Linked DNA regions of Homo sapiens: all the other regions are linked to region 1. Evidence: fine-mapped expression QTL. A gene starts in region 1. Each other region holds a variant in brackets. All regions are shown on one strand. Distances are from middle to middle. Region 1 holds the start of MMS19 (MMS19 cytosolic iron-sulfur assembly component). Region 2 overlaps UBTD1 (ubiquitin domain containing 1). Region 3 overlaps UBTD1 (ubiquitin domain containing 1).

Evidence for each region. PIP is the estimated chance that this variant, and not a neighbour inherited with it, causes the effect. A credible set is the group of variants that fine-mapping cannot tell apart.
Region 2: its variant is the best candidate, but not a certain one, in a credible set for the expression of MMS19 in iPS cells (HipSci, PIP 0.76).
Region 3: its variant is the best candidate, but not a certain one, in a credible set for the expression of MMS19 in tibial nerve (GTEx, PIP 0.75).

What each region holds. Positions count from the first base shown.
Region 1 is chr10:97,496,360-97,500,491 of GRCh38, reverse strand. MMS19 (MMS19 cytosolic iron-sulfur assembly component) reads left to right here and starts at 2,070. Exons shown (of 31, transcript NM_022362.5): 1 at 2,070-2,219. The coding sequence starts at 2,108. UBTD1 (ubiquitin domain containing 1) reads right to left here and starts at 1,568. Exons shown (of 3, transcript NM_024954.5): 1 at 1,219-1,568. The coding sequence starts at 1,288. RefSeq lists silencers at 949-1,148, 1,159-1,918 and enhancers at 2,159-2,328, 2,689-2,738, 2,415-2,945.
Region 2 is chr10:97,528,185-97,532,316 of GRCh38, reverse strand. All of the region lies in intron 1 of UBTD1 (ubiquitin domain containing 1), which reads right to left. Among named protein-coding and RNA genes, the nearest start is that of UBTD1, 31 kb to the right of the region's middle. The variant A/TTCAA (reference allele first, on the strand shown) is at 2,117.
Region 3 is chr10:97,518,328-97,522,459 of GRCh38, reverse strand. The region is part of intron 1 of UBTD1 (ubiquitin domain containing 1); the gene reads right to left. Among named protein-coding and RNA genes, the nearest start is that of UBTD1, 21 kb to the right of the region's middle. The variant T/C (reference allele first, on the strand shown) is at 1,984.

The DNA of each region.
Region 1 (4,132 bases):
CAGAGTTACCTTCAGACAAGAGAATTTCAATAAGTTTTACTGCATCCTTCCCATAAAAACACATTTCTGCCTCCACAAGTCATCCTGTCCACCATGCAGACATCCTTCCCTGCTTCCCCTGGTTCCCCCATCTTCCTTCCCAGTTTCCGCAACCCAAGCAACACACCTTCGGTGTCAAGGGAGACAGGAAACTCCAACTAGAGTTTCCACTTCATTAACAACTCTGCCTGTGGCTCCTCTTACATAAGGGGATATGTGGCAATGGGGTGGGAGAGGAGGCTGAGTTCTAGCCCCAGGTGAGCTCCTAACTAGCTGTGTGACTTTGGACAAGGTGTTCAACCTCTCAGGATCTGGGCTTTGACACAGAGTAGGAGATGGGTCCATCTGGAATCCAGACAAGTTTGAGCTCTCAAGTCTACGATATTATTCCCAGCGGGTCCTTGCAACACCCTCAAAGAAGGAAGTGAGTGTAAGACCCAGAAAAATGACCGACAGACCTCTTCCCGGGGCGAAATGCCAGGGCAGGCGGGGTGTACCATGAAAGTGAGAAAGCGTTGCGCGGGCCTGGAGGATCACCAGCGAGCGATCTCACTCCCAAAGCTGGGAAGGATCCCAACAATCCCAAGGGTGACTCTCACCCCGCACCCCATCTTTTATAGACTCCCAGACGGCCGAGAGGCTCTAAAAACCCCTGCGGGAAAAATAAAGATTTCTTTCCCAGAGTCCTGCGCTGCTTTGCAAGTCGGATTCCCGCAGACACGATCTGCAGCTCGATAATGACACAGTCTTTGGAAGGAGCGACTGTTCTCGCCTCGCTCGCTCCGAGTTCTGGGGACGCCTGGCTGCCCGCGCCGTGCCCCGACGGGCCGGCGTCCGACCCCGGCCGGAGCTGCCAGGCCAGCGGCGCCCTCGCCCCCGGCCTCCTCCCGATCCGTCGGCCCCGCTGCGGTCTGCAAACATTTCCTGCCCCCACCCCCACCAGGAGCTACCCAGTTGGAGAGAGTTGGTCGCGCAGCCGGCTCAGTGCTCGCAGTTGCCCCAACTCAGCTCCCCCGGCCGCCCGGCGCTGGGGAGCGGCCCCCTCTGGCTGCGGAGCAGCCCATCGGGGAAACCCAAGCGCCAGCACCAGTGGGGAGTCCATCGGTAAGCCCAGGACTCGGGCGAGGAGGGGGACAACTGGCGGGATGCCCGAGGCCCTGCTCCCTTCCCCATCGTTACCTGCTCGCTTGCGGGGGTGTCCCGGGGCTGCCGGCCTCTCCCGGCGCTGTCTCCCCACGCAGTTGCCCATGCTGGCTCCTCAGCCAGTCCCCATGCACCGGAGGCGGCGGGGTGGTCGGCTGCTCAGCGGACGGCGGCGTCCCGGGTCAATGGCTCCGGCCGCCCGGCATCGGGCGCTCCCCGATCTCCCCCCGGGGGCGCGCTCAGCCCCAGCGATGGCTCCGCCAAAACTTTGCGGGCCAGGGGAGAGAGGGAAGTGGCAGACTCCCCAGCACGGTCCCAGGTGGCCGGGCCAGGGGGGCCCGCGACGGTGCCCGGCCGGAGACCAGCTCCGCTGGAGGGGCGGAGAGAGGGGGCGGGCACCGCCGCAGCTACTCCCGGCTCGCTCGGGGCACCAGGCAGGGGCCGGCCCCCTGGAGCCTGTCACTCACCTGCCTAACCCCGCCCCAGGCCGGCCCCTCTCCCTTCCGCCGGCTCGCGGTGCCCGCGCCGCCGCCACCACCCGCCCCAGGTGCGCATGTGACCGACAGCACCGCCCCCTAGGGCTGGGCCTGATTTTCTCATTGGCTTCCCCCGTGGTGCGTACCGCCCCTCTCCCCACCCAGCCAGGTGCCCGCCCCGCAGCCCGTCTCCCGGGGAGCCGGGCTGGGAATTATTCGCCCTCAATCGCCTCCGGCTGCGTGCCCAGCAGCCGCCTTCCCTCTCGGTGCCACCGCCCCATTTCAGGCCCCGCCCCTCCCTGGAACTGCCTAGGCAGAAGCCGGCAGGCACGTGACCCCGGCGCCCCGCCCCCTTGCGCTTCCCCGGAGATTGGCTCGGGAGGCGCATGCGCGGAGAGCCCGTCTCGAGCCACCGCCCATATCCCCTCCCACGGTCTCTAGTTCGCGTTATGGCCGCTGCCGCGGCTGTGGAGGCGGCGGCGCCTATGGGTGCCCTATGGGGCCTCGTGCACGACTTCGTCGTGGGTCAGCAAGAGGGCCCCGCTGACCAGGTGGCTGCAGGTACGGCAGACGGCGCCGCGCGCCTTCCGCATGGGGGCCAACAGGAGGGAGCGGCCTCAGTACAGGCGCCGGGCGGGAAGGGAGGAGCGGGGTGACTTTGAGAGATTGGTCTCAAGGCTGGTTAGTGAGCACCGCGAGGTTCAGAGCCGTAACAAGTTAGAGAGTTGCCTGTGTCTTCCTTAAAACCATTTACACTTCTCATCTCCCTGTAGCCAATTATAGGGAATCATTACATTTTACAGATGAGGAAACTGAGGCTCAGCGAGGGCAAGAGGACTTGCGCAGGGCTGCAGACCAGGCAGGAGGGGGAGGTGGGACTCGGACCCAGGCGTTCAGGTCCGAACCGGGTGCTCACGCCACGAAGCCATGCTGTTTGTGGGAGGTTGACGTGTGGAGGTGCATCCTCGCAGCGTCCGCTCCCGTCGCGTGGCATCCTGGGAGTGGCAGATGGCCCCGCGCTCTGACTGGCTGGAATTAAGAGGAGTTGAGGAGACGGGCCAGGAGGAGCTGGAGATGTTCTGGGTGTCCTCCTTAAGACTTTCTCTCCGTTTCTTGCTAAAGTTCTTGATTAGTTTGCTCCATGACGTTTTATGTGGCGTTTGTTTTTGTCTTCTTCCCAGACCCCCACTTTCCTGCTTTTGACCAGTTCAGAGATCTCTTAGTTCAGACAGCTTATCTAAAATTAGAATAAAACGATTTCCAGGCTTCCGTGGAGTTCTGAGACTTTGCTCTTCTAGGAAAAAAAAAAAACTACTAAAAAGTTATTGAATGTTAGGAGGCCTTCAGATCTTGGGTTTAAGTAACAATATAAAATTATCTAATGAGTAGTTTTTTTAAAAAAACTTTGGAAATTTCGTATGCTTGGAGAGAAGTAAGGACACATTTCTCTTGGATATTGAGCGTATTAACCTTTAGAATATGTAAGAAAAGAATAGTGAATCTGCTAGAAATATAATACTTTGTTCGTTAGCAGTATTCCACTTTAATTCAATCATGCCACTATTGTTGAATACATATTATTCCCCAAACATGATGCAAAGCAATAGGAATATAAATACAAATTAGGTTAGATCTGTGCCCACCAGGAACTTATAGTATGCTGGGAGAGGCAACCATTCTGTAAGAGGTGTGTGCAGCGTAGTTTGGAAGCATCAAGGAGCAAATACCTGGTGCTGCCACCAAACTTAACATCTTACAATTTTATGAAATGTAGTGTGTTATCAGTGTTTACAATTTACAAGTACAGTGTCTTACCAATGTCATTTTCCCTCATATTTTATTATGAAAATTTTCGAATATCCAGCCAAGTATAAAGAATTTTATAAGGAGCACATCACTTAGGATCTATCCTACCATTAACATTTTAATATTACTTGCTTTATCATATAGCTATCCATCCATTTAAATTGCAGATACCTGTACACTTTCCTTTAAATACTTTGGCATGCATGTCATTGACTAGAGTTTGTTGACGGTTTATTTTGATGTAAAATGGAATATATAAACCTTTAAGTGTACGTTCACTGATTTTGACTAATGCATACACCTATACAATCCAACCCCCTACGAAGATATAGAACATTACTATATCAGTGTCATTTGTGATGAGTCTTTCACATTTATGCGATACGAAAACAATAATTTTGGATTTTTTTTTGATTCAGAACATATTTTGAAAAGACATCTTGAATGTCTTATCTTGAATAAGGACTTATCTTGAATAAGGACTGCAAATTCTTCTCTTTTTTTTTTTTTTTTTTTGAGACAAGGTCCCTCTCTGTCTGCCAGGCTGGAGTGCAGTGGTGAAATCATGGCTCACTGTAGCCTCGACCTATGCTCAAGCAATCCTCCTGCCTCAAGCCTCCCGAAGTAGCTGGGACAACAGGGAGTGTGCCACTGCGCTCGGCTAATTT
Region 2 (4,132 bases), 32 kb before region 1:
TATACAGGAAGAGACTCAGGAAAGGCTTTGGGAGGAAGATGGCATGAAACAGCAAACAAGTGAACTTACAAATCTCCCTGCAGACAACTCCAACTGCTTGGTTTGCTCCAGGGCCAAGAGATGGCAGACTGAGAGCGCCTTGACCCAAGGTGCTCCCTCCACTGGCTGCTCTCCCGGCCCAGTCAGCCCCCCACTATCTACTCCTTGACTCTCTCACCTTTCTAACCCTCAGTGTCCCACCTGGCTGTCCCTGCCCACCTCCAACTGCCTGCCAGGATGGCCAACTACCCAGCCCCCAGGATCACAATGCCTTGTTGCTGAGTCTTCCTGCTGGTCTTGGCCCCCAGGTCTGTGGTCCCACTCCTCATCACACCACAGGCCAGTTTTTCTATTCTGGGACCCATTTGGAGACTACCTCCTGGTGGTAAATTCTTAGCAAAATCCCATTACACCATGGCCTGTCACATTCCTCATGCTCCGCCCTCACCTGGGGACCTGGAAACCACAGGGGAGACTGTTGTGGGCCTAGGAACTGTTTATCACAGTTTCCAAGGGCACGAGACAGTTTCTCGGAGCACCAGGATGCTGGTGCTCAGAAAGGGCCAGAGGGTCAGGAATGGACCCGATACCTAGAATCGCCCCTGGGGGACTAACCAAAGGCTGAAGCTCAGGGACTGGCTCCATGACCCAGTGATCCCAAGCACAGTCAGGAGTCTCTGGTCCAACCACTTTTCTTATTTTTTACATTTAAAAGATGACATATGTCGGCCGGGCTTGGTGACTCACGCTTGGAATTCCAGCACTTTGAGAGGCTGAGGCAGGCAGATCACTTGAGGTCAGGAGTTTGAGACCTGCCTGGCCAACATGGTGAAACCTCGTCTCTACATAAAGTACAAAAATTAGCTGGGCGGAAACCTCACCTCTACGAAAATACAAAAATTAGCCAGGCGTGGTGGTGCACGCCTGTAATCCCAGCTGCTCAGGAGGCTGAGGCAGGAGGATCACTTGAGCCCAAGAGGTGGAGGTTGCAGCAAGCCGAGATTGTGCCACTGCACTCCAGACTGGGTGACGGCAAGACTCCATCTCAAAAAAAAAAAAAAAGATGGCATATGTTAAATTTAAAAAAAATAGGCTGGGCGCAGTGGCTCATGCCTGTAATCCCAGCACTTTGGGAGGCCAAGGAGGGCGGATCACGAGGTCAGGAGATGGAGACCATCCTGGCTAACAAGGTGAAACCCCGTCTCTACTAAAAGTACAAAAAATTAGTTGGGCGTGGTGGCGGGCACCTGTAGTCCCAGCTACTCCGGAGGCTGAGGCAGGAGAATGGCATGAACCCAGGAGGCAGAGCTTTTAATGAGCCGAGATCGCGCCACTGCACTCCAGCCTGGGCAACAGAGCCAGACTCCGTCTCAAAAAAGTAAAAAATTTAAAAATTTAAAAAATTTTTAAAATAAAAATTATATAATAAAAACATAAAAAGGAAAAACATAAGTAACCTATATCCTATCACCCCCAAATAACCAGCAATAATATGTTGAGACATTTTCTTTTGTTCCTCTCAATTAGCATTCATATTGCTGAGATCATATGGCATGTACAAGCTTCTACCATTATGATGTCCACGATCCTGTTTTTATTTTAATCTGAAACCAGCTGCTGGACCAGTGGTTCTCAACCCCTGCTGCTTGCCGGATTTACCTGTGCCCCCTCTTCCCTAGGTTCTATCCTTAGAAATCGACTCAGGACATAAAGAAAATATAGAATAAATATAACACTTCAAAAAAATCCTGTTTTTACTTCACACAGAATCATCTAATAAATATTTATTGAGCAAATATGTGCTGAGCACTATAAAGTATGCTTTTGTAAAAATTTTTTTGAGATGGGGTCTCACTCTGTAGCCCAGGCTGGAGTGCAGTGGCGCGACTGTAACTCACTGCAGCCTCAAACTCCTGGGCTCCAGCATTCCCCCTGCCTCAGCCTCCTGAGTCACTGGGATTAAAGGTGTAAGCCACCATGCACAGCTCAGGATGCATTTCTTATAATAAAGAGCTTGCATCATTCTTCATTCATTCATCGATTCATCCATCCATTCATTCATTCATTCATTCATTCA[A/TTCAA]GAAACATGTATTGAGCTTCTAGTATGCACCAGGCCCCGTGCTGGGGAACACGGACACAAAGTCACTAAGGCTCTCAAGGTCAGAGCTAGTGAGGGAGACAGACATGTCAGGAGATTGTTAGAAACTAATGCACACATGCAAGGGGAGTGATATGCACAGGAATCAGGGGGACACGTGAATGTGGTCTCACCCCCTCTGCGGAAGGTCTTAAAGTTTGCTCCAAGTACCAAAGAACAAGCTGGAGTTAGCCAGGCAAAAGGGCAAGGGGGCTGGGCTCGCCAGACAGAGGAGGCAGTGTGAGCCTACTCTGGGCTCAGGTTTGTGGAGCTGCAAGCAGTGCTGCCAGGTAGATCACACGAGGCAGGAGGTGGTCAGAATGAAGCCAAAGAAGGGCAGATCAGTCCCAGTCCCTCTCCCTCTCCCCACGGTCTCCCTCTCCCCACGGTCTCCCTCTCCCTCTCTTTCCACGGTCTCCCTCTCATGCCGAGCCGAAGCTGGACTGTGCTGCTGCCATCTCGGCTCACTGCAACCTCCCTGCCTGATTCTCCTGCCTCAGCCTGCCGAGTGCCTGCACGCCTGACTGGTTTTCGTTTTTTTTTTGGTGGAGACGGGGTTTCGCTGTGATGGCCGGGCTGGTCTCCAGCTCCTAACCGCGAGTGATCCGCCAGCCTCGGCCTCCCGAGGTGCCGGGATTGCAGACGGAGTCTCGTTAACTCAGTGCTCAATGGTGCCCAGGCTGGAGTGCAGCGGCGTGATCTCGGCTCGCTACAACCTCCACCTCCCAGCCGCCTGCCTTGGCCCCCCAAAGTGCCGAGATTGCAGCCTCTGCCCAGCCGCTACCCCGTCTGGGAAGTGAGGAGCGTCTCTGCCTGGCCGCCCATCATCTGGGATGTGAGGAGCCCCTTTGCCTGGCTGCCCAGTCTGGAAAGTGAGGAGCGTCTCTGCCCGGCCGCCATCCCACCTAGGAAGTGAGGAGCGCCTCTTCCCGGCCGCCATCCCATCTAGGAAGTGAGGAGCGTCTCTGCCCGGCCGCCCATCGTCTGAGATGTGGGGAGCGCCTCTGCCCCGCTGCCCCGTCTGGGATGTGAGGAGTGCCTCGGCCGGCCGCGACCCTGTCTGGGAGGTGAGGAGCGTCTCTGCCTGGCCACCCTGTCTGAGAAGTGAGGAGACCCTCCGCCCGGCTGCCACCCCGTCTGGGAAGTGAGGAGCGTCTCCGCCCGGCAGCCACCCTGTCCGGGAGGGAGGTGGGGGTCAGCCCCCGCCAGGCCAGCCGCCCCATCCAGGAGGGAGGTGGGGGGTCAGCCCCCCACCCGGCCAGCCGCCCCATCCGGGAGGTGAGGGGCGCCTCTGCCCGGCCGCCCCTACTGGGAAGTGAGGAGCCCCTCTGCCCGGCCAGCCGCCCCGTCCGGGAGGGAGGTGGGGGAGTCAGCCCCCCGCCCGGCCAGCCGCCCCGTCCGGGAGGGAGGTGGGGGGGGTCAGCCCCCCGCCCGGCCAGCCGCCCCGTCCGGGAGGGAGGTGGGGGGGGTCAGCCCCCCGCCCGGCCAGCCGCCCCGTCCGGGAGGGAGGTGGGGGTTCAGCCCCCCGCCCGGCCAGCCGCCCCGTTCGGGAGGGAGGTGGGGGGGTGAGCCCCCCGCCAGGCGAGCCGCCCCGTCCGGGAGGGAGGTTGGGGGTCAGCCCCCTGCCCGGCCAGCCGCCCCGTCCGGGAGGTGAGGGGCACCTCTGCCCGGCCGCCCCTACTGGGAAGTGAGGAGCCCCTCTGCCCGGCCAGCCGCCCCGTCCGGGAGGGAGGTGGGGGAGTCAGCCCCCCGCCCGGCCAGCCGCCCTGTCCGGGAGGGAGGTGGGGGGGTCAGCCCCCCGCCAGGCGAGCCGCCCCGTCCGGGAGGGAGGTTGGGGGTCAGCCCCCTGCCCGGCCAGCCGCCCCGTCCGGGAGGTGAGGGGCGCCTCTGCCCGGCCGCCCCTACTGGGAAGTGAGGAGCCCCTCTGCCCGGCCAGCCGCCCCGTCCAGGAGGGAGGTG
Region 3 (4,132 bases), 22 kb before region 1:
ACCTAAAGGAAACAAACTTCTCAGGCAGAACCAGTGAGTGAGAGACACAAAGGAAGCACACTTGGGCTCAGCCAAGTTCACACTGATCGGAGGGAGCTGCTCTCACAAGGCCATGGTGTGGGCAATGAGACAGGGCACAGGCACTCACTCTACAGAGAGACAGGCCAACGCATTCAGTGCGTTCAAAAGCTAGCCTCGCCCAAAGAAAGTCTGGCTGAATGCCTGGCAAGGGTGCTAAGTGGAACGACCCCACATTGCGTGGGCAGCTGGACATGACCTTTCAGGCTTTTCCAGCTCTGGTGCCCTGCCACAACACTCTGGAGTTGAAGAGGTGATCTTGTCTATGTCTTGCAGAGCTCAATTCCAATCACTGTCAGACATGCTCTTGCCACCTTCTGAGGTTTACGGAAGGGCTCCCATCTATAGAAACTTGATGTTGTGGCAGGCACTGTGGGACCACCTCACACCTCTCTGTATCCAAAGCTAACCATATGGCCACAGAAAGTCAGTATGGCAAAGAAAAAGTCAAAGGACAATCAGTCCAATGACGCAAACATCTGTAGTTCCAAGAAGCCCAAGGCCAGCTACTTGACAACAGCAGCACAAAACAGGTGCATGCTATCCCTGAAGCCCATTCTAGTGCCAGCCTCCATGCCAGAGCCTGGCCAGGTGGGTGTGTGACCCACTCCAAAGGGGGCCAGGCACACACTGCTGCCCAGCTGCTGCTGGGGGAAATCTGGACCAAACTCCGTAGCTGGGGCTTCAGGGAGATCAGGGACCCAGAACACAGAGCTCCAGGATCTGGTTAGTCTGGAGGCTGCTGCTCCTGCCTGCCTGAGGGTGGCCCTCCCAGCTTGATTTAGAAAAAGCCTCTACCAGGCTATGGCAGAAGGGCTTAACTTTTGCAGAGCCAGATCCCACTGGAGTCAGAGAGGTCGTGGAAGGCTCTGCAGCGTGTGCCCCAGCTGACGCAAGAATCCCTGGGAGTGACCCTCACCACCCCTGGAGGCTGGGCTCTCAGAGGCAGCCCGTTCCCACGTCAGACCACTCTCCTTTGGGAAAGGAGATCTCCCTCAGGGGGAACAGAAAAGTAACTCCTGGAAACTTCCACTCATGAGTGCCAGGCATCCAAGCACCTAGAAGTGAACTCAAATGCCACTTCCTCAAGCGTGCCCTCCACCAGCCAGGGAGCTGCCCACCCAGCAGAGTCTCACCTTACCAACCATCATTTGCATTGAGTTCATCACCCCTACCTGTGGAATGAAAGGCGGGTCCCAGGTGAGAAGGCAAACAAAACAAAACACTACAGATTAAATAACAAGGTTAGCTCAGAACTCAGCATGAAGTAGGCACTCGTGCTGGGGAGGCGAGATGGGAGCTGGCAGGCCCAGGGCCTCAGTCTGTGGCCCGGCTTCCCCAGCAGATCTCCCTCCTCTCTCCCTCCTGCCCTCCTAGTGGTCCTCTCTCTTTATAGAACATTGTGGAAGAGATATCTGCTATGGGAAGAAGGTCACAGCAGACAGTCACCAACTGCAGCCCATGAAAACCAGACTCTGAGCACTTGCTGGCCAGTTTAGCAGCTCCGGACAGTGTCCTGGACACGGCCTCTCTCTCCTTTCTCCTGGAAAGGGAAAACACCTCCTTACCCCAACAGGGCAGAAACCGGGGTGGCCACTTGCTTATTTCCCTTTCTCTCTCCAGCTGTGCCCCTGCCCAGAGGAGGCATCTTTCTCTAATTCACCCAAAGGTGGTACATGGACCAGCAGGCAGCCCTGGCCAGGGGTGGGGACACATGAGACAAACACGGCTCCCTCAGTCCCAGTCTCCAGGTGTCAGCGTAGGTGTCTCTTTTTCAGGGAAGGCTTCCTGACCCTCCATTCCAAAATAATTCATTTCTCCTACCCCATAATTCTCTCCCAGTACCTTATTCTTACCTTTGTAGTATGTCTTACATTTTGATTACCTGAGTATCATGTGTTTCCC[T/C]GTTATTCTGTGGGACCTGGGAGGGAAGGACCGTATCTATTTTGCTCAGCTGCACACCCAGGATCAAGCACGGCACTGGGCATGGAGAAACTCAATGCTCATCTGGGCTTTATGCAGACAGATGCTTCAGATTAGCCTTGAACCAGGACCTCAAGGACCACATAACACTTTCATTTCGACAAAGCCATTGGGTCAGCCACCCAGAGCCCCATGAGGGTTTGATCCAACTGAGACAAAGCAGGTAGGATGGGTAAGAAACAGCATCCACCATCACTGACTACCAGCCAGGTGCCAGGCATTATCCCACATAATCACCACAGTTACATGATAGGGTAGGTACTACCACCATCTATGTAACAGATGAAGGAACTGAGACATTTAGAGGTTAAGGAATACTACCACAAAGCAGTAAAGCTTGGATTTAAGCTCTGCCATGGTCTGAGCCGAACCTGTGCTCTTAACCACTAAGCTACAAGGTCCCAGTTAGTAAACCAGTGGTGTTTAGTGCACTTGCCCCAAGCCCCAAGCCCTTGGGTCTTTTTTGATGCCCCATATAGTATGCACCATCCTCAGAGACCTCCAGTAAACACCTGCAGGGCTGTGGGAGACAGAATGACAGGACACATACAGTCTCTTGTTGGGAGACAGCTTCTTAGCCTCTTAAAGCACATACCCCCTTTTAATCAACATACAGGCTTCCCATATACACCCCCACCTAAAACTGCTATGCCTCACTTGAGAATTCCTGCAATATCAGGCAAGATTTTGTCCAAGTCCACTTTCTTTAATTGTCTACATTTAAAAAACAATATATTTTTCCAAAGCTAAAATGAGATTATGATCCTGAATATGCTTTTCAAATTTCACACTTGCCCCAATCCCCAGAGACTGTGATTCATTCTCCCTCTCTCTCCCCAGTTGACAATCACCACTCACGGACAATAATAGCACACAAAAGGTTTACCACAAAGAGCAGAAATGTTCCCTGTCAATACAGAATGTGTAGAACAGGCATCTTGGGGCATTTCAAGCATGCTCAGGAGAGAAGGGAACATGATTTAAGTGGAAAGATCGTCAGAGAAAAGTCAAGATTAGGCTATTATTTCTTCCTCTGTAGCCCCTTATTTGCAAGGATAATGTCGTGAAGTTCTTAAAGCTTTACGGAAGACTATAAAATGGGATGCTGGTAGGGGGACTCCAAGCAAAGAGAAATACTACAACCTCTACCATCCAAAAGTTCTTTTTGCTGTTTGGGATACAGAGAAAGGAGAACAAAGGATGGCTCTGAGAATGACACTATGAGGTCTCCTTTGAGCACGTTATTATTTGCAACAGGCAACTAGAGAAAACGAAAACTTGAAGTTCAAGTGGGCTCCGGAGATGCCTGGCCCATGGCCGTCTCCTCCTCTAGTGATTAGGAGAGTGCCCTGGGAGTCAGACTGATACAGGTTCTGGTCTGGTTCTGCTACTTACTCATTGATGATGTTGGGCAAATTACACAACCTCTCTGGGCCTCTGTGTTCCCTGCTGTGAGAGGATGATCATACAACTTACTTCATTGAGTTACTACAAAGATTAAATGAGATAATACATGGAAAAGGTTTGGTACTACATCTGGAAAACATTAAGTGAACATGGGAAGTACTTCTAAGTGTTAGCCTTATTGTGCTTATTTCTCTCCTTGTTTCCCGAGAGGAATTCAGGCAGCTGGAAGGGCAGTCTGGCAACCCTCTCATTCTCATTTCCTATTTATTGTCACAAGTGACATAAACTCTCCAGTCAACGACAAGAACAGCTGGGCAGACCAGGGAGATGCACAGCTGCTGCACTTTAGAAAAAATAATGCTCCAAGGGGTCTGAGATTGGAAACGAGCAGGCAGGAGAAGACAAAATCTGGCTTGGGGTGGGAGAGAGCAGGCAGCTCTGCCAGATGCTCCGTGGAGGGAAAATGAACAGAAATAGCCAAACGGGCTGGAGGGCAAGGAAGACACACATAGAAGCCAGGCCTTCCTGGAGAAAGGAAGCTGCAGGTGAGCTGGAGGCAGCCTCGGGCCGGTAGGCATGACTCATACAGGAAAAGTGGGATGTCGGCTGCAGAGGATAGAGGGCCTTGTCCTCGGGGAGGGGCAGCTAGGGAGAAAGAACCAGG